Linked DNA regions of Homo sapiens: all the other regions are linked to region 1. Evidence: fine-mapped expression QTL. A gene starts in region 1. Each other region holds a variant in brackets. All regions are shown on one strand. Distances are between the middles of the regions.

What was found. PIP is the estimated chance that this variant, and not a neighbour inherited with it, causes the effect.
Region 2: its variant is the best candidate, but not a certain one, in a credible set for the expression of MIOS-DT in skeletal muscle (GTEx, PIP 0.54).
Region 3: its variant is the best candidate, but not a certain one, in a credible set for the expression of MIOS-DT in spleen (GTEx, PIP 0.82).

Annotation. Positions count from the first base shown.
Region 1 is chr7:7,561,190-7,569,744 of GRCh38, forward strand. It overlaps MIOS-DT (MIOS divergent transcript), which reads right to left and starts at 4,876. Exons shown (of 5, transcript NR_110084.1): 1 at 4,725-4,876; 2 at 3,048-3,135. It overlaps MIOS (meiosis regulator for oocyte development), which reads left to right and starts at 5,695. Exons shown (of 13, transcript NM_019005.4): 1 at 5,695-5,883; 2 at 6,418-6,499; 3 at 6,837-6,934. RefSeq lists a silencer at 5,516-6,165 and enhancers at 6,416-6,485, 8,063-8,122.
Region 2 is chr7:7,505,216-7,513,770 of GRCh38, forward strand. It overlaps COL28A1 (collagen type XXVIII alpha 1 chain), which reads right to left. Exons shown (of 35, transcript NM_001037763.3): 9 at 5,876-5,920; 10 at 1,902-1,946; 11 at 799-852. Among named protein-coding and RNA genes, the nearest start is that of COL28A1, 26 kb to the right of the region's middle. The variant A/G (reference allele first, on the strand shown) is at 3,937.
Region 3 is chr7:7,518,851-7,527,405 of GRCh38, forward strand. COL28A1 (collagen type XXVIII alpha 1 chain) reads right to left here. Exons shown (of 35, transcript NM_001037763.3): 4 at 5,379-5,399; 5 at 3,055-3,111; 6 at 1,212-1,265. Among named protein-coding and RNA genes, the nearest start is that of COL28A1, 13 kb to the right of the region's middle. The variant A/T (reference allele first, on the strand shown) is at 4,197.

The sequences.
Region 1 (8,555 bases):
TTTGCAAACTATGCAACTGACGGAAGTCTAATATCCAGCGTCTATAAGGAACTTAAACAAATTTACAAGCAAAAAACAAAAACCCTATTAAAAAGTGGGCAAAGGACATAAACAGACACTTTTCCAGAGAAGACATACATGTGGCCAACAAGTATATGAAAAAAAAAAGCTCAACATTACTGATCATTAGAGAAATGCAAATCAAAACCACAACGAGGTACCATCTCACCCCAGTCAGAATGACTATTACTGAAAAGTCAAAAAATAACAGATGCTGGCAAGGTTGCAGAGAAAAAAGAATGCTTATACACTGTTAGTGAGAATATAATTTAGTTCACCCATGGTGGAAAACAGTGTGGCGACTCCTCAAAGACCTAAAAACAGAACTATCATTTGACCCAGCAATCCCATTACTGGGTATATACCCAAAAGAATATAAATCATTCTATTATAAAGACACATGCACATGTCTGTTTGTCGTGGCACTATTCACAATAACAAAGACATGGAATCAACCTAAGTGGCCATCAATGGTAGACTGGTTAAAAGAAATGTGGTAAATATACACCATGGAATACTATGCAGCCGTAAAAAAGAATGAGATCATGTCCCCTGCAGGAACATGGATGGACCTGGAGGCCATTATCCTTAGCAAACTAATGCAGGAACAAAAAACCAAATATCGCATGTTCTCATTTATAAGCGGAAGCTAAAAGATGAGAACACATGGACGCATAGAGGGAAACAACAGACATTAGGGCCTACCAGGGGTGGAGGGTGAGACAAGGGAGAGAATCAGGGAAAATAACAGGTACTAGGCTTAATCCCTGAGTAACTAAATAATCTATATAACAAACCCCCATAACATGAGTTTACCTATATGGCAAACCTGCACATGTACCCCTAAACTTAAAATAAAAACTTAAAAAATCTTCCTTGTCCTATTTAAACATAATTCTTGGTATTGAGGTAAATCTGAATTCACATGATATGCTTTGTCAAATTTTTCCAAAAACTTTTTTTTTTTTTTTTTTTTTTGGAGACAGAGTCTCACTCTGTTGCCCAGGCTGGAGTGCAGTGGCATAGTCTTGACTCACTGCAACCTCTGCCTCCCGCATTCAAGCGATTTTCCTGCCTCAGCCTCCCAAGTAGCTGGGACTACAAGTGCGCACCACCATGCCTTGCTAATTTTTGTATTTTTAATAGAGACGGGCTTTCACCATGTTGGCCAGACTAGTCCTGAACTTCTGACCTCAGGTGATCCACCTGCCTCGGCCTCTCAAAGTGCTGGGATTACAAGCATGAGCCACCACACCCAGCCCTGTTTTGCTTATAATTTAAAGATTTAAAAAATATTACAAATCATATACTTGACAACTATGTAAATTTGTTTTGACAATGTTAGGTGTAATCCCAAAATGCATGAAGAAATGCATTGATTTAAAAAATTTATTTGGGGATATTCTAGAAAAGTTTTTGAAGGCCATTATTTTAAGATATCTCTGATCTTCTGATCTTCAACCTATGTGAAAAGATTACCTAAGCCATGGCACATGTTTACAGGGCTTCATTTCAGCTTGATACCTGCCCAGCCTCCATCTAAAAGCAAAACTTGCTCTCAGGTACAGACTGATTTTGTGCATGTGGAAATAAAAAGAATTGGGATTAGCCAGTCACAGACTTCACAAAATGTTCCAGTACTGTAGTAACTGAATTGCTGCCAGGAGCAGCTGTAAATAAGAAAGAAATTCGCTGTCCTTCAACTGCAATCCTTCTGGTTTTAAAACCACAACAAAAATCCTCTCCTGGATCACCACAACATAAATGAAGAATCTTAAAAAGAACATCCTGGCCAAGCGCAGTGGCTCATGCCTGTAATCCCAGCACTTTGGGAGGATGAGGCAGGCAGATCACTTGAGGTCAGGAGTTCGAGACCAGCCTGGCCAACATGGTGAAATCCCATCTCTACTGAAAATATAAAAATTAGCCAGGCATGGTGGCGCATGCCTGTAATCCCAGCTACTCAGGAGGCTGAGGCAGGAGAATCACTTGAACCTGGGAGGCAGTGATTGTGGTGAGTTGAGACTACACCACAGCACTCCAGCCTGGGCGACAGAGCGAGGCTCCATCTCAAAAAAACAACAATAAAAAAATCCTATTAGGAATACAAAAGCTTAAATTAAAAACAAACAAAATACCGAGACTGAACTACAGTGGCCCTAGGATCTATTGTAAAACGCATGTTTAGTAAAGGCAACTAGTGTAATCTCAGACCAGTCTGTCAAGTTCTCTGCTACGGTTTACTGTTTCCAAAGATACAAAGCACTCACTCAACTCAGTAAATATTTTTTGGATACCTATGCAACAGGTGCTAAGGGAAATCCAAAGTTCCATGCTAAAAGATTGCTACCTGCAAGGATCTTGGTTTAGTAGAGAAGGGGAATCAGTTTCCAAAAAGACTGAGAAAGGTGTCACTTATTCCTGTGAGGGGCTTTAGAAGAATTAGTGGCAATATGAAAAAATATATACTTTCACAAAGCTTGAGTGGAAAAGAAAGTTGAAAAAGGGACATTAGCTGGAGGAGGATGTAGAATAAATACGTTGTTTTAGGATTTATTCAATACATTTTTATTTACCACATTTATTAGGTACTGTTTTACATCCTGGTGATTAAGCAGAGAATAAAATAGACAGAGCCCCTCTGTTTTAATTAGGGAATTGGCTAAGCTGCTCTACCAGGTCCAAACAAACAATGATTTTTTAAAGAACAAAGTTTATTTTCTCTTGCATAATGGTCCAGAAGTCTGTGGTTGATCCAAGGGAGGAGGTGCCCCAGCTCCCTGAGATTAGTTTGGGACTTAGGCTAGTGAGAACAGCTTTGCCTTCCTTAATACATGGCTTCCATTTCCAGTCTGTATTTCTTTTTGCCATTTGCCAGACAGCAAGAAGAGGGAAGAGAAAGTGTATAGCAAGCAGCTTTCCTTTTAAGGGACATGATCCAGTTCTACTCACATCTTACAGGACATAACTTTTTGATATAGCCTTACCTTGCTGAAAGGGAGGCCAAGGAATGTCATGTCTAAGTAGGTCACCAAGTGCCCTGCTCAAATTTGAATGTAGAGTTATTTCCTCTTACTAAAAAGAAAAAAAATACAGAATGAAAACTGGAGATAAGGAGAAGACACAGTCTAGAAGATAACTATAGGAAAGTAAAGAGATGGCGACGTATGTGAAGTTGTGGTGTCATAAAGACAACAACAAAGGAGCTAATTTATAGGTAGTCAGTGACAAGTGAGCAGTCTTGAGTAAAGGGAGAGTATGAGTCATGTAGATTTCTGCATTCCAGACAGAGGGAATAGCTAGTGAAGAAGCCCTGAGGCAAGAGCATGCTTGTCATGTTTAAGGAACAGTGAAGTCACAGGGATAAAAGACAAACCAGAAGAAAGTGATGATATGCAACAAAGTGAATGAGACATGTCAAGAGAGGAAGTAGTCAAGAACAACAGAAGTTGCAAGAGTGAAGCTTTGGCCATTGAAACTGGCAGCATGGAGCTCACAGGTGACCTTGACAAGTGGCAGTTTCGTGGCATGGTGGGCATGAAGGACTGAATGGAGTGAATTCAAGGGAGAGAGGGGGAAGTGGAATTACAGAGAGCAAATATGATCCTCTCCTTTGAAGAGAAAATGGGAATAACTTGAGTATGTGTTGAAAGTAAAGAACCAGTAGAAATGGAGAGGCAAAGATACATGGAAGTGAAGTAATTGATGGTGCAAGGTCCCAGAAGAGGAGATATACATGGGGTTCCTCCTCTTACTCTTTGTCACCTAAAAGAAGGTAAGAATGGTAGTGAATCAAGATGTTGGAGGAGGGAAGGAGGAAGCAGTGGGAGGTTGTGCAAATTCTAGCTAATAGTTTTAATTTTCTTTTCTGAAGTAGGAGGCAGTGTCATCTCCTGAGTGCAAGCAGAAAAGTTGTCCTCAACTATGTATAGTAGGAGTGGATAAGGAAGAGATTTGTATTGATCTGAGGTTTTGTGTGGGGGTTTGAGGCCAGGGTCAAAACCACTGAGAAGATTGGCAAGATAGTGTTTGAAGTGATGAATACTGTCATGTCTCCTCTCAGTAATACAGCACTTTCTTCAGCCTACATTCTTCTAATGGCAGGATTGGAAAGGCAATACTTTCCCCAAACTCATCATCTTATCAAAACCATCTGCCACCAAGATCATCAGGACTAAGCTCATTATGCTGTTTACAGCCATCACCACCACAAGCCCAAGACCACCCACTTTTAATCATGAACAGACAAGCAAAGACTGTCAGACATCTGAAGACTGCCTCGAGGTCAGACTCGTGACACCTGAGGCAGCACCATTCACTCAGTTTTGGGAACAAAAAACTTGGAATCCTCTTTCACCGTCATTCACTTGGTCAGTCACCAAGCTCTGTTCATCCCGCCTTCTAAGTATTCCCCAGGGCCCCCACTTCTCTCCATGCCCACTCTCCGTGCCACTGGTAACCTGCGTTTCTATCATCCCTCATTCTGATACTCTATCCCTCCAGCTCTCTGCGCAAAAACTGATCATACTGGCCGGGCACAGTGGCTCATGCCTGTAATCCCAGCACTTTGGGAGACCGAGGTGGGCGCATCACGAGGTCAAGAAATGAGACCACCCTCGCCAACATGGTGAAACCCCATCTCTCCTAAAAATACAAAAAATTACCTGGGCGTGGTGGCGCGCGCCTGTAGTCCCAGCTACTCGAGGTGCTGAGGCAGGAGAATCGCTTGAACCCGGGAGGCGGAGGTTGCAGTGAGGAGAGATCGCGCCATTGCATTCCAGCCTGGCGATATAGCCAGACTCCGTCTCAAAAAAAACAAAACAAAACAAAAAACTGATCATACCACTTGCCTGATTAAAAACTTTCGATGACTCTAACATTGCCTTTAGGTAAATGCCATCCAAACTCACTAAACTGGTTTCCAACCCGTTTCTGAAAGCACCTTAATCTCTCCCCACTTCCTCTGCTCATTCATCCATACCTACTGCCTCCTCACTGCTATGTCCTCTCTCCTGACCCGGCACTTGCTCTTTCCCAGTCCTAGAAGGCTCTTCTCTTCCAGTTCCCACTGCCCTTTTCCCTTTCCTGGCTAATCCCATACTCATCCTTCTTGTCTCAACCTAGTGGTCCTTAAGGAAGCTTTGCTGACCCCCGACACCGAGCGGGCGTCCCTCCTGTGTAGCACTGTGTTAGCCCTACCAAGTCAAGGCTCTCCTTGCCTGTTTCCTGCCGGAACCATGTCTTTTTACTTCACTCCTGTCTCCTCAGCATTCCAGCACAGTGCTGGGTACATAACAGGTGCTCAAGACAAGTTTGTGGAATGACTAATGAGTGAATAAATCATTAACCAAACACCTTGGATCTCCTACTACATCATTTGCAAAAAAAAAAAAATGTTTAATAGAAATTAAAATGGACCCAGTGAGCTAGAGTGTGTGACCCTGCTTAAAAACGACAGAGTGGTTCTGAGAAGCAGTCCCAGCCTAGGAACCCGGGGATCCGGCCTGTGGACCCACGGGCAGGGCCTGCGGGGTGCACCGGCGCTTTCGGGCGGAAGGCGGGGCCTCCCGGCCAGTGACCCCGCCCCGAGGCGCCTCCCGGGCGGGGAAGGGCGGGGCTCGCGCTGGGAAACTCCCCTTCCAAGGCCGAGGCGCCGCTGCGCGTCCTCCAGGCGTGGTGGTGGGGTCGTGGGTCCCAGCCCAGTGGTCCAGGTCACGGGCCGCACGGCCGCGGCCGCCATCTTGCCCGCGTCCGGGCTCCTGCGGCGGGCGGGGCGGTGTCCCGGCCGGAAGCGGCTGTGCGGCGGCCGCGCTGCCACCTCAGGTCAGTGAGCGCGACCCGGTTCGCGTCTCGACTCTCGGGAGCGCCGCGGCCGCAGCGAGGGGCCGGAGATAGCCTAGTTGAAAGGCCCGGGCGTCTCGGCGGGGAGCGCGTTCCGCGCTGTAGGGTAATCGCGCCGGGCGGCCGGCCGCCTGGCCGGGCCTCAGCGGGAGCCACCGGGGGCTGCGGGCGGCCGTGGGACCTGCGGAGACCTCCTCGGGGCGCAGGGAACACGCTACAGCCTTCGCCGCGGCGGGCTTGTGGGGAGCGGCGTCCCAGCCTTTCCCGGGAGGCTCAGCCAGGTGCCTGGAGCGGGAGAGTCGGACTCAGATTCCTGCTTTACCTAGAATAGCAACGTGCCCTGTTCCCGTTGTACCCTCTTAAATACTATACTTCTTAAACGGCCTGTCTCCCGGTGAGCTCTGTTCTCTTCTCATATGAGTAATGAAAATTAAGAGGATGAATGAAACCTCACACATGTTGTGGACTTTGCTGAATAGGTTAGCAAATGACTGCAGGCCTTTTGTATATTTTAAGGGAAATTTGGATATGTGCAGTGCATCTCCTCGAAGATGCTGATGGTGGAAATTTCTTGAAACCGCTCTCGTAATTTGCCACGGTAAGAAAAGTAAAAGACAACATCAAAAAGCATGTGGTTGGATCCTTTGTACACTGAGTAGTATTTTAATGTGTTGGACTTCACTGTCCAGTAGCCACATGGGATTGAGATGTGCTATAAGTGTAAAATACACATCGGATTTCCCAGAGTTGGTGCCAAAAAAACGTAAAAATCCTCAATAATTTTTGCATTGATTACATATTGAAAGGATAATGCTGTTGATATGTTGGCTAAATAAAATGTGTTTTTAAATTTCATTCCACCTAATTTTACTTTTTAAATGTGGCTACTAGAAATTTTTAAATCATATGGCTCACACTGTATTTCTTTTGGACAGTGCTGTTGCAAATATTCTGGTGAATGAACACAGAATCAGCATGGCTTTCCTTTGCTGAGAAATCACTGATGGGAAGTGAGACTTGTTAAACTTGAAAGGTGAGGATATAAATACAAGCTGTAATTATTGCAGACCGCACCCCTTCTACACCTAATTTTTTAATGTCTCCAAAATTTGGAAAAAACATTAACTTTCAGGGCTGATTAAGGGAATGGTAGTAATACTAACATCTGTGTGATGTGAAGAGCTCATTTCAGTTGATTGTCACAGCTTTGTGAGATGGAAATGGGATAGATTTTATCTCGGTTTTATGGTTTTGGAGTATTACAAGATTTGTTAGGATCTGAGCTGGGGAGTGGCTGTAGGATTTCTGACTCTAGATTGTTTTCTTTACACCAGATTCTTGGTGATGTATGTTCATGAGCAAGGAACTGTTTATCCTGTATATTACATGGTGAAAAAAAATACACTTCTTAAAAGGGTGGACATAGATGCACCTCTCTATACAGGGCTACTCTTATGATGTGCAACCTGTGCAGTAGCACAGAGCCCAGCATTTAGAATGGCTAGCACTTAGTTTAATGGCCAGTCTGCTGTCACTGTCTGGACATTGTAAATAATTTTTAAATGAGGGGCCCTGCATTGTTATTTTGCACCACGTCCTGCATATCGTGTAGCTGATCCTTTTCTTTGCAGTAATCTAGGACGGAAGTTGAGAGACCTTGGATAACCACCCAAACATCTGGTCTTCACTTTACTCCTTTGTGAAATTAGAAGATTTAGCTAGTCTTTTTCTCTCAAGTTTTGATTCTGTATGAATTACTGTCATCAGATTTTGTGGATGGCAATAGAAGTATTTTAGGTGCATAACATGGGAAGAAATGCTGATATTCTCCGTTGAGAGTCATGTAAATCAAAGTTTTAAATTTTATGCTAAAACTCGTATTTTATGTTTTGTAAGATGGATTTTTCTTTGTGGCATCAAGATTGCTTACCATAGACCATTGGTATAAAGAGTCGGGTTGTGGAATGAAAGCCTAGATAAAAAGTGTGTTTATTTAAACATTGATTTTTCAATGAGATGGGAAAATGGCCCAGATCTCATGATGTCTCCAATTAAGAGATTTCCTTTGTGGGGGTATGAGTATGAACCCTTATTTGGCAGTATCTGTTCCTCTTTGCTGTCGTAGCTGCTTCCTGTTACGTGAGGTGCCCCTCTTCCTCCTCATTCTTAAATTTTGAAACTCTTTTTAAGGTTGGACTTAATTTTATCACTACAGTGCAGGTTTTTTTTAGACCAGAGACTTCATCGGCTCATGTTTGCTGCTGTGTTCCCAGCTTCATAACCATGCCTAGAACATAGAAGGTGCCCAATCAATAGTCACAGAATAAATGAAAGTATAATAGCAGACATTTAAATCTTGGCCGGAGCCAGCCTCTCCTAGGGAGCGTAGAAGTGGAAGCATGAGGAAATAGGTAAAACTTGGAGATAGCAGTTGTGAGAAGTGTCAGAGGGATCATTCAGCACATGCATTTATTTAACAAATGTTTATTAACTTCCTACTAAGTGCCTAGCACTGTACTGGGGACTAGAGGTACAATGGAACACCAAAAATACTTCACCTGCTCTCATGGAGTGTATAATCCAGTAGAAGAGACAGAGATGGATGATTAAAGGGAAAGAATACTGTTTAATGACAGTGTATGTCTGAGTAACCA
Region 2 (8,555 bases), 56 kb before region 1:
TATCACCCTTAAAAAGCTGGCTTTCTTTAGGGTCAGTTGAGGATGGCATCTTCTGCTTTTATTACTGCCATAAATTCCATACCACTCAAATCACTAAGTCGACACCATTTACTGGATATTTACTATATCCGTGAAATTTACTAAGCTTTGAGAAGAGTTAAAAAGGAACTAAACAGCTTGTTTTAGCAAATTAATGGTCACTCTCATTGGAAAAGAGAGCCTTATAACCAGGCCTTTAAAGATCCCTCCCATCTGCATCTTTTTGTTCTGCGTGGCTTGTATTCAACCCCTCCCTATTTGTCTTGGCTGGTTATCTGTGGACTGATACTACAAGCATGGTGCTGATGGTTGAGATTTCCCTGTAATTAAAAAAAGCTTGATTTCTGTTGGTATAACAACTGTAAATTTCCTTCCCCTATAAAGTGTATATTGAGGTGGCATTACATTTGAGAAATAGAGTGGTTTGAATTGTGTCACTTGTTATTGCTTTTTGGTTTCTAATGAGCCATAAAATAAATAAAAGTCAGGAGTAAGAAGGAAACACAGCAAAGATTCTAGATAATGGCTTATAGTTAACAATATCCCTCTTTGAATAACATAATAATAAATGATAAAGGTATGCTGCTAACTTCCTGAATGCATTAGGACTTAATTCTCTGTATACATCTGCAGGTTATTATGCATTTCCAAAGGTACTTCCTCAAAGAATCCATTGACTTTTACCTAATAAAACATACATTACTATAGCGCACTAGGGGAAAGGCACTCTGCCTGTCTTTAATCAAAGGGTAAGATTACCTTATTGCCTTGAAACCCCTTTGGGCCTGGGTCTCCTGGAGGTCCAGTAATTCCCTGCTCCAGGATGAAAACCAAGAATTAGTTCTGTGTACAAAAGGCCAGCAGGAATGAATCATTCTTTAGGGTCCCTAGAGATCCTGGCGATCGAAGTTAGACTGTGTAACTCAGAGCTAAATTGAAATCACATTCAATCGAGAAGTGGGATGAGATAAAATTTCTTGTGTCAAATACGTAGCTTCCAAAATAGCACTTATGCTAAGAGCAAACATTTAATTAACGAGATGTTTGTTTACTAAACCTGTGTTTCCAACATTATTCCAACGTTCTTGACTCCTTTTAAAAAATATTTTGCCAGTTAAGTATCTTCTTTTTTAAAATATCTAAGGCATATGTAACTGACGTTAGAGCTTCCAATGAACCTGGGATAACCAGAATGACTGCCTGGCTCTGACATTTCCAGGCTAAAGCAAAGAAGTTAGTGGTTAACTAGATGGTGTCTAGGAGATTCTGGGTAAAATTATAATTTTCTGTAGGCTTTTTGAAATACTGAAATTAACTCCTCACACAGAGCACCATTATAACTTTAGAAGAGATAAGTTCCTAGGCTAGGAAAAGATTCAAATTATTTTCTGAAATCTATGGATGTCTAACTTAAATGCCTTAGAGAATCAGTCCATATTATAGAACATTATCTAGTTATAGAACAATAAAAATATACTGTGATTTAGATAAAATGCATAACTTTTCCAACTACATTATAGTAGCAGTGCAAAAATAGTTACATCCTGCTTTTAACCACTTGACTTTCCATCTTTCCAGACTCTTAATTTTTTAACTTCATCCCCTAAGCTGCTCACTAATACTTGCCTGTTGGTACCTATCTTTAGGGAGTCTTAGTTAAGTTAATGAAAACATTAGGGAAGTTGTTTCCAAAATTTATTGCACATTGTAATCTTCTGGGTATCTTAAACAATATTAATGCCTGGCTTCAATCCCCAGACATTCTGATTTAACTGGCAGAGGGTGCAAGTGGGCAAGGGGATGGTTTAAAAACTCCCCAGGTGATTCTAATTCAAACTTAGATTTGGTTTTAACCCCCTTACCTGAATTCCTCTGGGTCCCTTTGGTCCATATGGCCCTGGGGATCCCTGTGGAATAAAATTGAAAATAAGTCTCTCTAAATATACATCTTCAACGTGCAGTGATTTTAGGTAGGAGGGAAGGAAATGTGTTCTCGGTAATTGCCATCTTCCCTGGTTATCTTAACATCAAAGGCAATAAACTGAAATAATCCTAATTAACAAGCCAAGGGGTAGGAGTGTCAAACTTTCCTTCAGTAAACAATCTCCATGAAAATACAATTTTAGATGTAAGTCCGTTGCCTACATATTGACATTTTGGTCATTTTGGTTACAGTAAAGAAATTACTTTATAAGATTCCTTAGAGGGCTATAAACTTATTGGAATATTATTTCCTTCCGACAGGGTAATGTCAGTTAAATTAACAATGTAGTGCATTTCCATGCTATCTAGATCACTCTTTTGCTCATCTTCAAAACACTGAACGTGGCAAAACACTGTTTATATTCAATACTCTTCTAATAGAAAATATTTCATTCGGTCCCATAACCAGGAAACCCTTTAAAATTTATTTTGTGAGGGAGAACATAGTCTAGTTTTTATTTCCCCAGATTTCCACTTTTTTTTTTTGCTTATCAAAGTACAACCTGTTAACAATTGACACACTTTGACAATTATAGAAACATATAAATAAACAATTTGAAAAATCACACAGAAGCAAATGCTGTTAACATTTTAGGCATATTTTCGTCCAGTTTTATTCCCAGTAGATTCCTCTTCAAATAATGTGATCAAAGTGTATGTCTGATTTTGTGTCCTACCCATTTGGCCTTACACTGTATCAAAAATATTTTTCCGGCCAGGCGTGCTGGCTCACGCCTGTAATCCCAGCACTTTGGGAGGCCGAGGCGGGCGGATCACGAGGTCAGGAGATGGAGACCATCCTGGCTAACACAGTGAAACCCTGTCTCTACTAAAAATACAAAAAATTAGCCGGGCGTGGTGGCGGGCACCTGTAGTCCCAGCTACTGGGGAGGCTGAGGCAGGAGAATAGCGTGAACCCGGGAGGCGGAGCTTGCAGTGAGCTGAGATCGCGCCACTGCACTCCAGCCTGGGCAACAGAGCGAGACTCTGTCTCAAAAAAAAAAAAAAAATTTCCTTTTTCCATGTCATTAAAAACTCATAGTAAACAGATAATAGTCAAGAATAGGGAACTACCATAATTTATTTACTCATTTCCCTAGCTTTGACCTAATATTATAATGAACATCTTTATGTATAAATCTCTGCCCAACTTCTGATTCACTCCTAAGAATAGTCTACTAGAAGAGGATGATGGAAGCAGAGACCATAAGCACATTTAAGGTTCACCGGCTGTCCTTTGTCTCTCATGCCATATATAGAAATAAAGAGAGAGAAACTTCCTCCATAAAGTTTGTTTGTTAATCATTTCCACTACCCGAGTATGAGAGAGTGTATCTTCATCTTATGGGCTCCCCATCAACAATTAGTATTATACATTACTTCACTGTTTGCTAATTTGATAGGTGATATAATACTTTTGTATGTTTGCTTTTGGTTGCTGGTGTTGTTGTTGTTGTTGTTTGAGACAGGGTCTTGCTCTGTTGCCCAGGCTGGAGTAGCTCACTGCAGCCTCTATCTCCCAGGTTCAAGCAATCCTCCCACCTCAGCCTCCCTAGTTGCCCACACTGGTGATATAATACCTTATTGTTTTATTGTTGGTTTTGTTTTGTTTTTGAGATGGAGTCTTACTCTGTCCCCCAGGCTGGAGTGCAATGGCACAATCTCGGTCCACTGCAACCTCTGCCTCCCAGGTTCAAGCAATTCTCCTGCTCCAGCCTCCCGAGTAGCTGAAATTACAGGTGTGCACCACCATGCCCAGCTAATTTTTGTATTTTTAGTAGAGATAGGGTTTCACCTTGTTAGCCAGGCTTGTCTCAAACTCCTGACCTCTGATGACCTGCCCACCTTGGCCTCCAAAAGTGTTGGGATTACAGGCATAAGCCACCACGCCCAGCCTATTTTGTTTTTTTTGAG[A/G]CAGGGTTTCGCTCTGTTACCCAAACTGGAGTAGAGTGGCACAATGACAGCTCACTGCAGCCTCAACCCCCTGGACTCAAGCAATCTTCCCACCTCAGCTTCCCAAGTATCTGGAATTACAGGCACATGTCCAACTAATTTTTAAATTTTTTGTAGAGACGGGGCCTCACTATGTTGCCCAGGCTGGTCTCAAACTCCTGGACTCAAGTGATCCTCCCACTTCGGCCTAATTTTAATGTATTAATTTCACTTATCTGATTGCTACTGTATTCGGATATTTTTCTTATTTATTAGCCATTTTAATTTCCACTTCTCTATCTCTTCATGTTGTTCATATGTTTTTCTGAACAAACTTGTGTAAACTCTTCGTGTCAAGGACTCTATATCTCATCAGTTCTAAGGCACATTTTTTCACATTTTTATATCTCTGACATTGGGGTATATTTTACAGTCAATTGCACCTTACATTTATAATTGGCAGTGGGTTTTTTTTGTTGTTGTTATTCCTTTTTGGTATGGAAAATAATGGGACATTTAATAATCCCTGACATCTTAGTCAATGAAATATGATATCCTTTGTCAACCATTTTAATTTCATCTAGTTTTCCCAGGTATTCTTTGACTTTCATTTCTATTCTATTCTATGTGTGTCCCTTTTTCTGCATTGCCAATATCCAGGTCCATCTTCCATGTTCAGTTATACTCCAGGAAGAATCTATTCATTTTCACATTTCCCATTTTGACCAGAGATAATTACCAAGCCTACCTTTTGCAGATCCACCTGACTTTAACTCTACAGTACTTTAAAAGCATTCAGAAAGTCTCAATCTATTTAAAGTGTTTAGTTTCATGGGCCAAAGTCATTATCTCACCCTCTTCTCCTAACCTTCTGCCTCATTTTCTCTCCTTGACTCCCTTCCAGAATTATAACATAGAAACTGAAAAAGTTTGGTATCTTGGTGGCATGATGTTAATAGTTCTTAATATAATGAAAACTATTTATTTTTACTCTGTACTTTTTTGGACCCTTTAACATCATGTTTCAGATATACTCTCTGTATATATTTGGCCTTTTGAGGAACTCTTTAACATAATATTATTTCCAAATTTAAGTGCTTTCATTATTGATTGATTGATTGATTGATTGATTTTTGAGACGGAGTCACTCTGTCACCCAGGCTGGAGTGCAGTGGCACGATCTTGGCTCACTGCAACGTCTGCCTCCTGGGTTCAAGCAATTTTCCTGTCTCAGCCTCCTGAGTAGCTGGGACTACAGGTGCACGCCACCATGCCTGGCTAATTTTTGTATTTTTAGTAGAGATGGTGTTTCACCGTATTGGTCAGGCTGGTCTCAAACTCCTGACCTCAGGTGATCCACCCACCTTGGCCTCCCAAAGTGCTGGGATTACAGGTGTTAGCCACTGCGTTCAGCCTATATTTATTTTTTAAAATAAAGGTGAATATTTATCCAATTGTTTGTGTCTACATTTTCAAAATTCCAAATCTCTATGTCTAGTTGCACCACACTGTTTATAACTATTTCACTGACTGATTTCAGAGTTCTTCACACTATTTTGGAAAGTGCCTGTTTTCAGTGTTTGCATCTGGAAAGCACTTCTACCCTGACCTAACTGCAGCTTTAATTAACTTTGCAGGTTAAATAATTCTTTTTACCATAACATTCAGTGGGCGTGGCCTCCAAGGTTAGGGTGTCAGAAAATGAAGTCTTAATGGTCCATAAAAAAGGCATTTGGGGGTTCTATTATTGAGTTAGGCATCACTTTGTTTTCTACCACATGTTTTACAGATGTGAAAAATTGAGCCATTGATTCCAACTCTAGTAGTGAGATCACCATAATTCAGCCCAGGAATTTCCCCTTAAGGAAACGCAACCCAAAAGGGATCACAGCTGTAAGCAGTTTAAAAACATGTTCCTTACCTTGTCACCTTTTATCCCTGGTTTACCACATTCCCCACGTTCACCCTAAAAAATAAATAAGTGAAATAAATAAGAGAACACTTGCAGTCATTCACTATTAAGAATGTTTGTTTGTTTGTTTTTTAAATTCCCAGCAGACTCTTGTAACATAAGCACTCTTTTGGTTTCTACACAATATTAGCCTCAATACTGTGGGTTTTATGGGCATTGAAATCTGAATATTTTTACCCAAGAGTCATCCTTAACTTGACAGGAATAAATCAGGAACAATGTAATAAGGTTTGACATTTTTAAGAAATGGATGAAACTAGAAGAAAAGGAACCTAGCATCTAATCACATATTAGATGCCCTTTGCATATGTGGTTTAATTGAATCCACATAACGGTCCAGGGAGATCAGCTTTATCATTCTTATTTTATAATTGAGAACATTTAAACTCAACAAGATAATTTCCCTCTATCAAATAGCTAGTAAGTAAAAGAATCAGAGTCTGAACCCAGATACTTTAACTTGGAATTCCTATTTTTTCAAGAACACCATGCTTCAGCCTGAGTACCAACCTTGACCACCTAGTAGTGTTCACCTGGAGAACCGTGAGAGAAAGGTTCTGAAGTGAGATTGCATCGTGAGTTAGTGGGAACAGGTGCCATGATGAGTTAGCGAGGACTGCTGTAGGAGAGCCGGGCTTGGCAGCAAGCATGCTACATATTTTTCATTATTATGCTCTACTTCCCTGTCTTCCCTAGAATATTGCTGAAAAAACAACATTTGAGTTATTCTTTAGAGTTTATCAGTGATAGTTTATCATAAATATTTTATCTTAGTTAATCTGACATTACCTGTCTGAGATAAATATTAATCCAATTTTATAGATTAAAATTTTGTAATTAAGAAGGTTAAGTAAAGAGAATGTGGTATACAATGGAATATTATTCAGCCTTTGAGAAAGAAATCCTGTCATTTGTAACAACATAGATGAACCTGAACCTGGAAGACATTATGTTTAGTGAAATAAGCCAGGAACAGAAAGACAAATATGGCATGATCTCACTTATATGTGAGATCTAAAAAATTTGAACTCACAGAAGCACAGAGTAGAAGGGTGGTTACCAGGGGTAATTGGTGGAAACTTGGGAAATGTTGGCCAAAGGATACAAAACTAGTTAGATAGGAGCAATAAGTTCAAGAGATCTATTGTTCAACACGATGACTATCATTAATAACAATGTCTTGTATTGAAAATCACTAAAAGGGTAGATTTTAAGCATTCTCACCACAAAAACTGATCATTATGTGAAGTGATATATATGTTAATTAGCTCAATTTAGCCATTTTATAATGTATACATTTATCAAATTATATTTTATACAATACAATAAATATGAACTTTTTAGATTTGTCCATTAAATTTTTTAAATAAAACTAAATATTTTTAAAAGGTTAGTTTCCTCAAGTAGAAGGAGAATTGGGACCTCTGAATACTAATCCATTATATCAGACTTTTGAAACTTCTACTACTTAGAACTAAAAGGTGACAGTCAGAAAAATGACTAAAGTTTCATAATCATAGTAATATTATCTCCTTTATAAATCACTTTAGAGTTTTCAAAATGCTTTTATATATATCGTTATTTTGATCCTCAATTCAATTCTCATTTTCAAGATAAGGAAACACAATTGGATATGTCAAATGATTTACTTAAATGTACAGGCTACCCAATGACTCCTAGTCCAGTGCTCTCAACACTAGCTTCTGCTGCTGCTTCTTTATTCTGCCTCTGTACTGCTCTAGGGCATGTTACTGGAAGTGCCACTACACAATGACAAGGAAATTACATTCAAATGTAAATCAATGCACTGCTTCTTTCATCAAGGAAGTCTTGCTATGAAAAATAAATGTCAGCTGAACTTTAAACAGTATACGTTGTAATATAGTGGATTTATATGCTGGCGGAAGCTTTATCTTGTTGCAGAATAGCAACAAACCATTCACAGACTGGCAGCCAGCCTGCAGACCACAGTTTCAACAGCAGTGCTCTATGGAGGGAAATCACAACTGTAACCTCCAATTATGGATGCAAAGTGTGTGCCATAGCCTTTACATTATTGCTAATCCCCATAGCAGCCTTGCGAGGTATATATACATATCTCCACTCACAGATAAGCAAAATGAGGCTCAGAGACATTACATACTTTGTCCATGACCACAAATTTGAGTCTGTTAGGCTCTCAAGTCCATGTTCTTATCAGTCACCTGTAGCTGAACAAGGCACACTATCATAGGCTGCAAGTCACTTTCCATTAACCTGACATTTCTGCCTAGGGTACTGCCTGGGCTCTTGCAGGCATCAGGAGCAGGAAAGAGGGAGGTGTGACTCTTAGAGCCAGCTATGCCTCTGATCAAAAGCAATCTGTTCTCTCTTCACATCCTTTCGTGAGTCAAACTGACCCAGGAAAAACTGAGCTTTCACTTAGAACAAGTTGAACATTTATTTCTGAATGCAAATGGAAAATCACTTTTGAAGAATCAATTAGAAAGCAATTAATTTAATAATTTTGGATGGGAATAAAATGAGTCAACCACCAAAATATAAAACAGAAAGTACCATAAATACACTCAAAATGCTTTTGGCTACAATTCACATTCCATTTGTCCAGACAGATTTGTTAGCTATAGGG
Region 3 (8,555 bases), 42 kb before region 1:
CATTCTCTCTATTTAAATTTATTTTATTACCTAATGAAATTAAATGTGCTTTTACTTTTTTCTTTACTAGTTTTGTTTCCTCTCTTGAAAATTGTGTTCAGAAATTAACTCAGTGTACTGTAGAAATTAACCCAATGTCCATTACATTTGATGCAAATATTTCCTGATATTTCTATTTCTTTAATATTCCTTCCTTATATTAGGACATTCTCATGCTGCTAACAAAGACACACCTGAGACTGGGTAGTTTATAAAGCAAAGAGGTTTAATGGACTCACAGTTCCACAGTGCTGGGGAGACCTCATAATCATGGAGGAAGGTGAAGCAGGAACAAAGCCACATCTTACATGGTGACAGGCAAGAGAGCTTATGTAGGGGAACTTCCCCTTATAAAACCATCAGATCTCATGTGACTTACTCACTATCACAAGAACAGCATGGGAAAGACCCGCCCCCTATGATTTAATTACCTCCCACCAGTCTCTCCCACCACATGTGGGAATCATGGGAGCTACGTACAATTCAAGATGAGATTTGAGTGGGGACATAACCAAAGCATATCACTCCCTTTTCTTTAATTATTATTTTTTTCATTACACAGAATTTTGCCTTAAATTTTCACATAGTTATATCTACTTTTCTCTTTGTGATTACTGCTGTTGTTCTTGAACTTGGAACCAAAATCCTAACAATGATCTGAACAGATGAATGTTTTCTTTAAAAGCCTGGGATTTTTTTTGATAGGTACACAGAGAAAAGAATTCGAGAAGTCCTTGAAGATGCTCTGGGAGTGAGAAACAATCTGGTGGTTTTTCTATGATTATTGTCAGTCAGTTAATCATTAAAAGTATACCCATTAAAAACACAAGTGCCAGTGTCAATCTGATATGGAACACATATTACTAGTTGCTGAATCATCATCCTAAATAAGATTGGCTGCTATCGTTTAAGTACTAGTTTCTGTTTATTCAATGTCCCTAGGTTTCCTAAACTTACTGACTAAAATGTTCATATATGTTACTCAGAATTTGTGAATTCAAGCTAATAGAAATAAGATAGATAATATAGGAAGTGGAAATCCTGTATTCTTCACAAAAGTTGTCACATTTTTGCCATATACTACAATGCTTTTTATTTTTAAAATTGTTGTTTTAAAAAAAAAGTCTAGAAGGAGATACGCTGGTTTAAAGAAAAGCTGTTTATTCATTTACCGGGTTTCCTTTTGGTCCTCGCTCACCTTTGATACCTGGATTTCCATGTGTACCCTGAAGGCAAAGGGAAAAAATATTATTTTAAGTAGGAATTCTATTGTTTTCTATACTTTATAATAATTTCTGATCAGTTTTGTTTCCTAGAATGAGGGAGAATTGTAAAACCTTTACCTGCCAAGCAGAAATTCAATTCTCTTCTCCCTTTTTCTACACCAGGAAAACCACTGTCTTGAATTGGCAGATTTTCTAGATTTGCTCAAAAGAGAATAATGTTTCTCTCTTCCCACCAATTACTTCTTCCCAAAACAATCACTTCTCAGCAGTTTTGCAAACAAAATCAAACTCATGCAAAGATTTAAAAGAGTAGCTGCAACAGGCAGAAGGATAGGAGTTGTTCCCAATCTCTCTTCATTGTGGGTCACTTCTACGATTCCCTCTGTCACTCACTTTTAAAAGGACCAAGCTAGCTTGCTTGCCTTTGGTCAAAGAGGTTCTGATATCCAGGAGACAATCTCAAAAGATGGGAGAAAGGAGCTCTGTAATCCTGTTCCAGAAAAGCATTTTGTTTTCCTGTTCCTAATCAACCAGAAAGCTTGCTTTTCTGAGAAATGGTGTTGGGGGTACTCGATAATGTTAAATAACATATTCTGTGGCTTATCCCTACTAAAATGTGACAAGAATGTGACTAAAATTGTCAGGTGCTTAGCAATTGTGAGCTTTCTTATTGCTCATTTTAAAATATAAAGAAATATTTCTTACCCTGGCCATCTCTTGGTGTCATAGAGATAAACGAAGACTTTATAGGAAGGGATGGCTAAACCTTTGCTTTAGCCAAAGTCAGCTTCTACTGGCTGCCCCACTATCATATAACGCATCTAACTTTGTATTTGGGGAGAAAAACATCCCTTGATTGGTAGGATGGTTTGAAAAATTGTAGGCTTTGGACCCGAGTCTCAAGGTAAAATTTGTCACATTCTAATTCATTCACAGTACACATTCCCCTCCCACCCCCAAATACAAGCATTAGTTGAAAATTTTTATCCATGCATTTTGTGAGATTCTCCATAGGGCTTCTTCTGAACTCTAAGGATGATATTTGGAATTATACAAATAAATAGAAGACTGAATGAGCACGTGAATGCTTTATGAAGATAAATGTTAAAAAAATGCTCAGCATTTCCAGTGATCTAGATGTCATTTCAAATGCCTTCCCAGTACAGACATGGCACCTACCAGTTATTAGGCCAGAATATAAAGAAAGCACTCCTTCCTGGATTATCTTATCAAACAATGAATCATCATAGTCAATCCTGCCATTTATTTTTGGTTGCCATGTGCTTACTTCCATTTCACAGAACTCACCCTAATCCCCCAAAGCATCGTGACCAGCTTCCTGTCCATGAGGCCACACGGTGTTGCTGCTGCACTGCTGCATTCGTGTGAAGCCAACATTTAACTTTCAGAGAGGCTTGTACTCCATGTTTCTAGTAGGATAAAGCTTTGCTTAAAGCACTGATTATTTGTATTAGCTTTTTCTGTATTCACTTCACTATTGAGAAATTCTGGCTTCAATTATTTTATGAGGAGGAATATAAATGTCCTTTGTGGGAACAACTTCAAAACACACCTGCCCTCAGTTCAGGTCAGTAAAATCCCAGGCTTATTTCTAAGGATAGAATGTGTCCCTTTAGAAATAAAAGAAAGAAGTAGCATTTCCATTTTTCCTCCCATTTCCAAACAATTGCTTTTCAGCAGTGCAAAATAGCCCCGATGTTTTCAAGAGCGAGTAGAGCTATCATTGCTAGGACTTTCTGACTTAAGTTCAAAGTGGAAGTATACTCACAGGAGGCCCTGGATCACCTGGATCTCCCTTCTCACATTCACAAATCTTGCGTTCACACTGAATCAATAATGAAATATGATATTAACACACAGTGAAATTCAAATTGTATGCAGCATTTCAAATTGTATTTCAAATACATTTCAAAGTGTATTTCAAATAAATTTCAAATAGCATTTCAAATTGTATTCAGTATATAACCAACTGGAGCACTCTCAAAGAAATTTTACCTTGCACATTTATGGATGTTTTGCTCTCTCTATTAAATTATTCCAGGCAAATTTATACCTACCAAGAGCTAGCTAACAAAATATTATTAAATTTCAGCATAGTTAAATAAAAGACATCCCATCAAAAATACATGTATAATATATAGATGCCAGTTAAAAGGAGAAAATAAATATTTTCAGTGGACTTTTAGAATTTCTGATCCTTCTCTTCTATATAACACATCAAAGCTCAATAATATAATAATATTAAATGCTCCTTTACTAGGCAAAGGAAAACATTTGACTTATAGCATATTTTACTAATTGTAAGATAATTGTAAGATGCACCTTCTTCCTCATTTTAACAACTCTGAAATCAGAATGAGTCTTATAACAGCTGTTGACCAGGTTCAGTCATGACAAAGTAGTTGCTTTTTGCACATGCACTTCAAAACTTACAGAATGAAATGGGAGAAAATTCCAGAACATACTTAAGAAATGCTTCATCACCAATGGTTTTGCTGGCATAGAGGTCAGTATTACGCAGAAAAACAAGGACATCAACAACTCAGACAAAAAATGATTCAGATTTACCAGGGGTGTCTAATCTTTTGGCTTCCCTGGGCCACATTGGAAGAAGAAGAATTGCCTTGGGCCACGCATAAAATACACTAACACTAACGATAGCTGAAGAGCAAAAAAAAAAAAAAAAAAAAAAAAAAAAAAGGGCCGTGCATACATTTTATAACGTTTTTAAAAAGTTTATAAATTTGTGTTGGTCCGCATTCAAAGTCATCCTGGGCTGCATGTAGCCTGTGGGCCGCGAGTTGGACAAGCTTGATTTAGAGTCTGATGTGAAGAAGTTTTAGAAATAACCAAGTTATTTTGCTTACATATTCCCTTATATGTATATATGAAAGTGATACAGGATTTTAA[A/T]ATCTACATCCAAAATGTCTAAAAACTTATTTCCACAGGTATAAAATAAAAAGTGCAATTAATAAGAAGACACTGTATCATAGATAAGCTAGCAAGGGTTTTTTCCTTTCTTTCTTTTCTTTTTTTTTTTTTAAACGGGAGTCTCACTCTGCCACCAGGCTGGAATGCAGCAGCAATCTTGGCTCACTGCAACCTCTGCCTCCTGGGTTCAAGTGATTCTCCTGCCTCAGCCTCCTGAGTAGCTGGGACTACAGTCATGCACCATCACCCCCAGCTAACTTTTTTGTATTTTTAGTAGAGACGGGGTTTCAGCATGTTGGCCAGGATGGTCTCGATCTCCTGACCTCATGATCCACCTGCCTCGGCCTCCCAAACTGCTGGGATTACAGGCGTGAGCGACCATGCCTGGCCGTTTTTTTTTTCCTTTCTTAATGGTACATAACATAATGGTATATCCGAACATGTACAATTCAATAAAACATGGTGTGACGTAGGTTTGGTTGACTCCTATTATTTTATGCAACAATACTTGTAAATTTCCTGATGTTAAATAAGCAGCTCATTGAACAAAGCTCAGATGTTCCAAACTCTTTCTTTTAAGAAATGCATGTCCAGGACAGGACTCCTCAGCAAGCTGATGATTATCTATTGTGCTAAGGCTCGTCCAATCTTATTGGCCAGTTTCCTTTGCCACGTGGTCTGGTTGCCATCATCAGGCTGCCTTTTCTTCACAATAAGGAGAATGAGCTCAAAGTCAATTGGCAGGCAGCAGGGGATGACTCTAGACTCTGTCTCTTAGCTGGGAACCCTCTGCCTAACCTAGCCAACACCAGGAACACCCCCCAAAATAGAGGACCTGATGTGGCTGATGTCAGATACATGCTTAGAATAAAGGAAGCACATCAAAGTAAGCAAAAACTATGTAGTTTGCTCATGACTGATTTCTAAAATCACTCCTGGAGTCACATTCAATATTTCCTACTTTTTCTAAATTTTCCAACTTGCATTGAATATGGTAGTATAAAAGAAATCAGATGGCTGCCTCAGAATAGAGTGGCTCATTTTAAAAGAACTAAGCATTTTTATTTAGTCACACTTAATCTTCTAATGTGAATTATAATGCTGATTTGATAATGCAAGTGTTTGGAGTAATTCGTAGTAATCAAAGCATGTGGTGCTTACCTTCTTTTCAAATAAGATATCCTACAAGGGAAAAAAGAATGAAGCATTAACTCGATTGATAGTTCTGCCTCCAGCTACTTATTAGTCATAACTATTCCCTATGGGATATGAAGTTTCCACAAAGAATAGCAATTCAGCCTTTTTAAACTTGTAAAAGCAATAAAACCAACCAGCCAACCACCCAAGGAGCAGTCCGAGCCATGTAATAATAAGAGATATAACTACCATTAAAAATTAACCTATATTTTCTAGGAACTTCATCTTACTGCATTCTATGTTTTATCTTTTGTTTCCTTTATCAGCTCTGTAATCTCCATAATTTGACTATAAAGTTAATCAGTCATAATGACAAAGCTCTCACTTTTACATACAAAGACTGAGGCAGAATATATAATTGTATATTTTCAATTTTTTCCATCCCTATGCACATATACATGCATCTATTTTTCATGATTTATTTTTCAAGATTAAAACAATATAGTCATAACTTCATGAAATATTAATGGGTGTTAGATCATATTAAAACTCAAAAAGAGAAAATTACAAAGTCCAGTGACATTTTTTGAGATGATCTGAATTATGAGAAGACAAAGATTTCCATTATTATGATCACTAGGGGAGGAGTTTTCTATTTCAAATTTGAAAAGCCTCCAATATGATACTTTATTTACAGAATTTCAACAGAAGCCAAAAAAGATACTCAGCTTTTAAATTTAAACAGTATTAGGAATAATATTTTGGTAAAAATTTTGAACTGTTCATAGCAATATGCATTACTTATGTAAAAGAGGACTTACATTTATAACTGGCTAACTTAGGGGAAAAACTAAGTGATAGAAAAGTAATACATATTTCATAATAAAAAATGATCATTATGAAAAACAAAAAAACAAATTTAATGAGTCTTAGTCAATCAGACTCAACCTCTTGCTTTGCAATAAGGAAACATGGTTCCACCATAATGTGACTCAACTGAGGTAACACACTTGGGCTGCACCTCCTGACCGTCTTCAGTGCATGTCATATGTACCATACAGGAATGAATTAGCCAGAATATTTTTCAAAACTATTTTAAATTTATAATTTTGCAGAAATGTCATGATCTTGTTTTTGTCTAACACCTAGGCCTCACTACCATACTTGAATTCAGTGGGATATTACCTGACAAGTGCACTGAAGGCTGTGTTGGAAGACAAACGCTGGAAAGAAACTAATCTATGTTTATATATAGAATTAGTACTTTCTTAACCTAGAAATTATGTGTCAAACCAGTGCCTTGTGATTTCATCTGAAGGGGTAATTTACATACGATAAAATAGAAAGATGAAGGAGCAAGCACTGGAATATTTGTTGCAAGATATTAAAAATGCAGAAGCTAACAAGGAAGTTAAATAAGAGTATGTAGCTTTATGAAGGATGCTGCATCCCTTTAGTTTTATTTTTACTTTATTTCCGTACAAACTAATACTATAGAGGGACGAGATAACAAAATGCTTTAATGATTTAATAGGGAAAAAATTAGGCTGGGAATTAAGTGTCATTCTGGGTTTCCATCCCGTTTCAACAATTAACTAGCTATGTGGCCTTGGACAAGTCATACAATCCTTCCAGGTAATTTTCTCCATATATAAAAAAGGACAAAGTTTGACTACATGATCTCAGGAGCTATAAAACCCTAGCCACAGACACTAGCTACAAAATTTAGAGTCTCACCTACCACCCCTCCCAACCAAACGATTTTAAATTACTAGCCATGTAAATCCAGGCTGAAAGCAGATGAGATATTTGTATCTTTAAGAGCTAGGAGGTCCTATGGAGAAATAGGAACTCAGATACACTGATAGTTTTAGTTAAAATGGTATTACCCTCTGTAGAACATTTGGTTATGCCTACAAGGCTGAAGATGGACCTGCTTTATCACGAGGCTGCCAGGACAATTCTTGCTTTTGCCTGTTATCCTGACATCCTTTCTAGACATACCACAGGGAAATTCTTGCACTTGCACATTTCAGCATTCATTGTTTTTTGTAATGAAAAACTGTAAATAAAATAATTGCCAATAGTGGAATGGATCAGCAAATGAAATACTACTCGGCAGTTAAAGTGAATGCATTGGATCTACACATTTCAACAAAATTTCCAAAAAAACATTGAGTGCAAAAGCAAGTTGTAGATAGATACATACAATATGATCTGATTTATTAAAATACGTAAGATATTTCAAACCACGTCAGAGAGTGGTTTCCTCTGGGAGAAAGAGAGAGAAAAGAAATTCAAAAGAAGTTCAACAGAGGCAGTAAAACAACTAATAATTCAAGTCAAATTGTAATATTTAAAAACCACTACTGAAATAAAGAAAAATTTAAATATTTGTCACTTTAAAATCTTTTAACAATGAGCAATATCTTTTTTTTTTCTTCTTTTTGAGATGGAGTCTCGCCCTGTCACCTAGGCTGGCATGCAGTGGCATGATCTTGGCTCACTGCAACCTCCACCTCCTGGGTTCAAGCAATTCTCCTGCCTCAGCCTCTGAAATAGCTGGAATTACAGAGCACGCCAACAAGCCAGGGTAATTTTTGTATTTTTAGTAGAGACAGGGTTTCATCATGTCGGCCAGGCTGGTCTCAAACTCCTGACCTCAAGTGATCCACCCACCTTGGCCTCCCAAAGTGCTGGGATTACAGGTGTGAGCCACCGCACCTAGCCACAATAAGCAATATCTTAATCAATTTTTAAATTCACGAATTCAGCTCTTACTGTGCCTGATGTGTAATTTTATACTTTTTTCAGTTCTTTCTTTTAAAATTCAATTTCTTCTTTGCCATATTGCTCTTTAGAAATATGTGGCATAAGGCTTAAAACCATAGCAATGCAAAAAACTATTTTTGGAACTCATTTAATTTTGTGTTTGCTGGAATTTATATTTCTATGGAAACAAAAATGAACCCAAAACTACACAATAGATAAGACTGTTTCAAACAAAGAACAAAGCCCCATCCCTGAGGGCTCTTATAGGCTATAAGCCCCAGGAACAGAGGACAACACACAGCAACCCGAGTAGGAAGGAGGTCCTAGGCCAGGGGCGGGGGAGCCGCTAACAAGATGGCTTCTTGGAATAGGTGGGTTTTCTGGATGGTTTTGAAGAGAGGAATGCAAAGGACCACCCATTGATGGTAT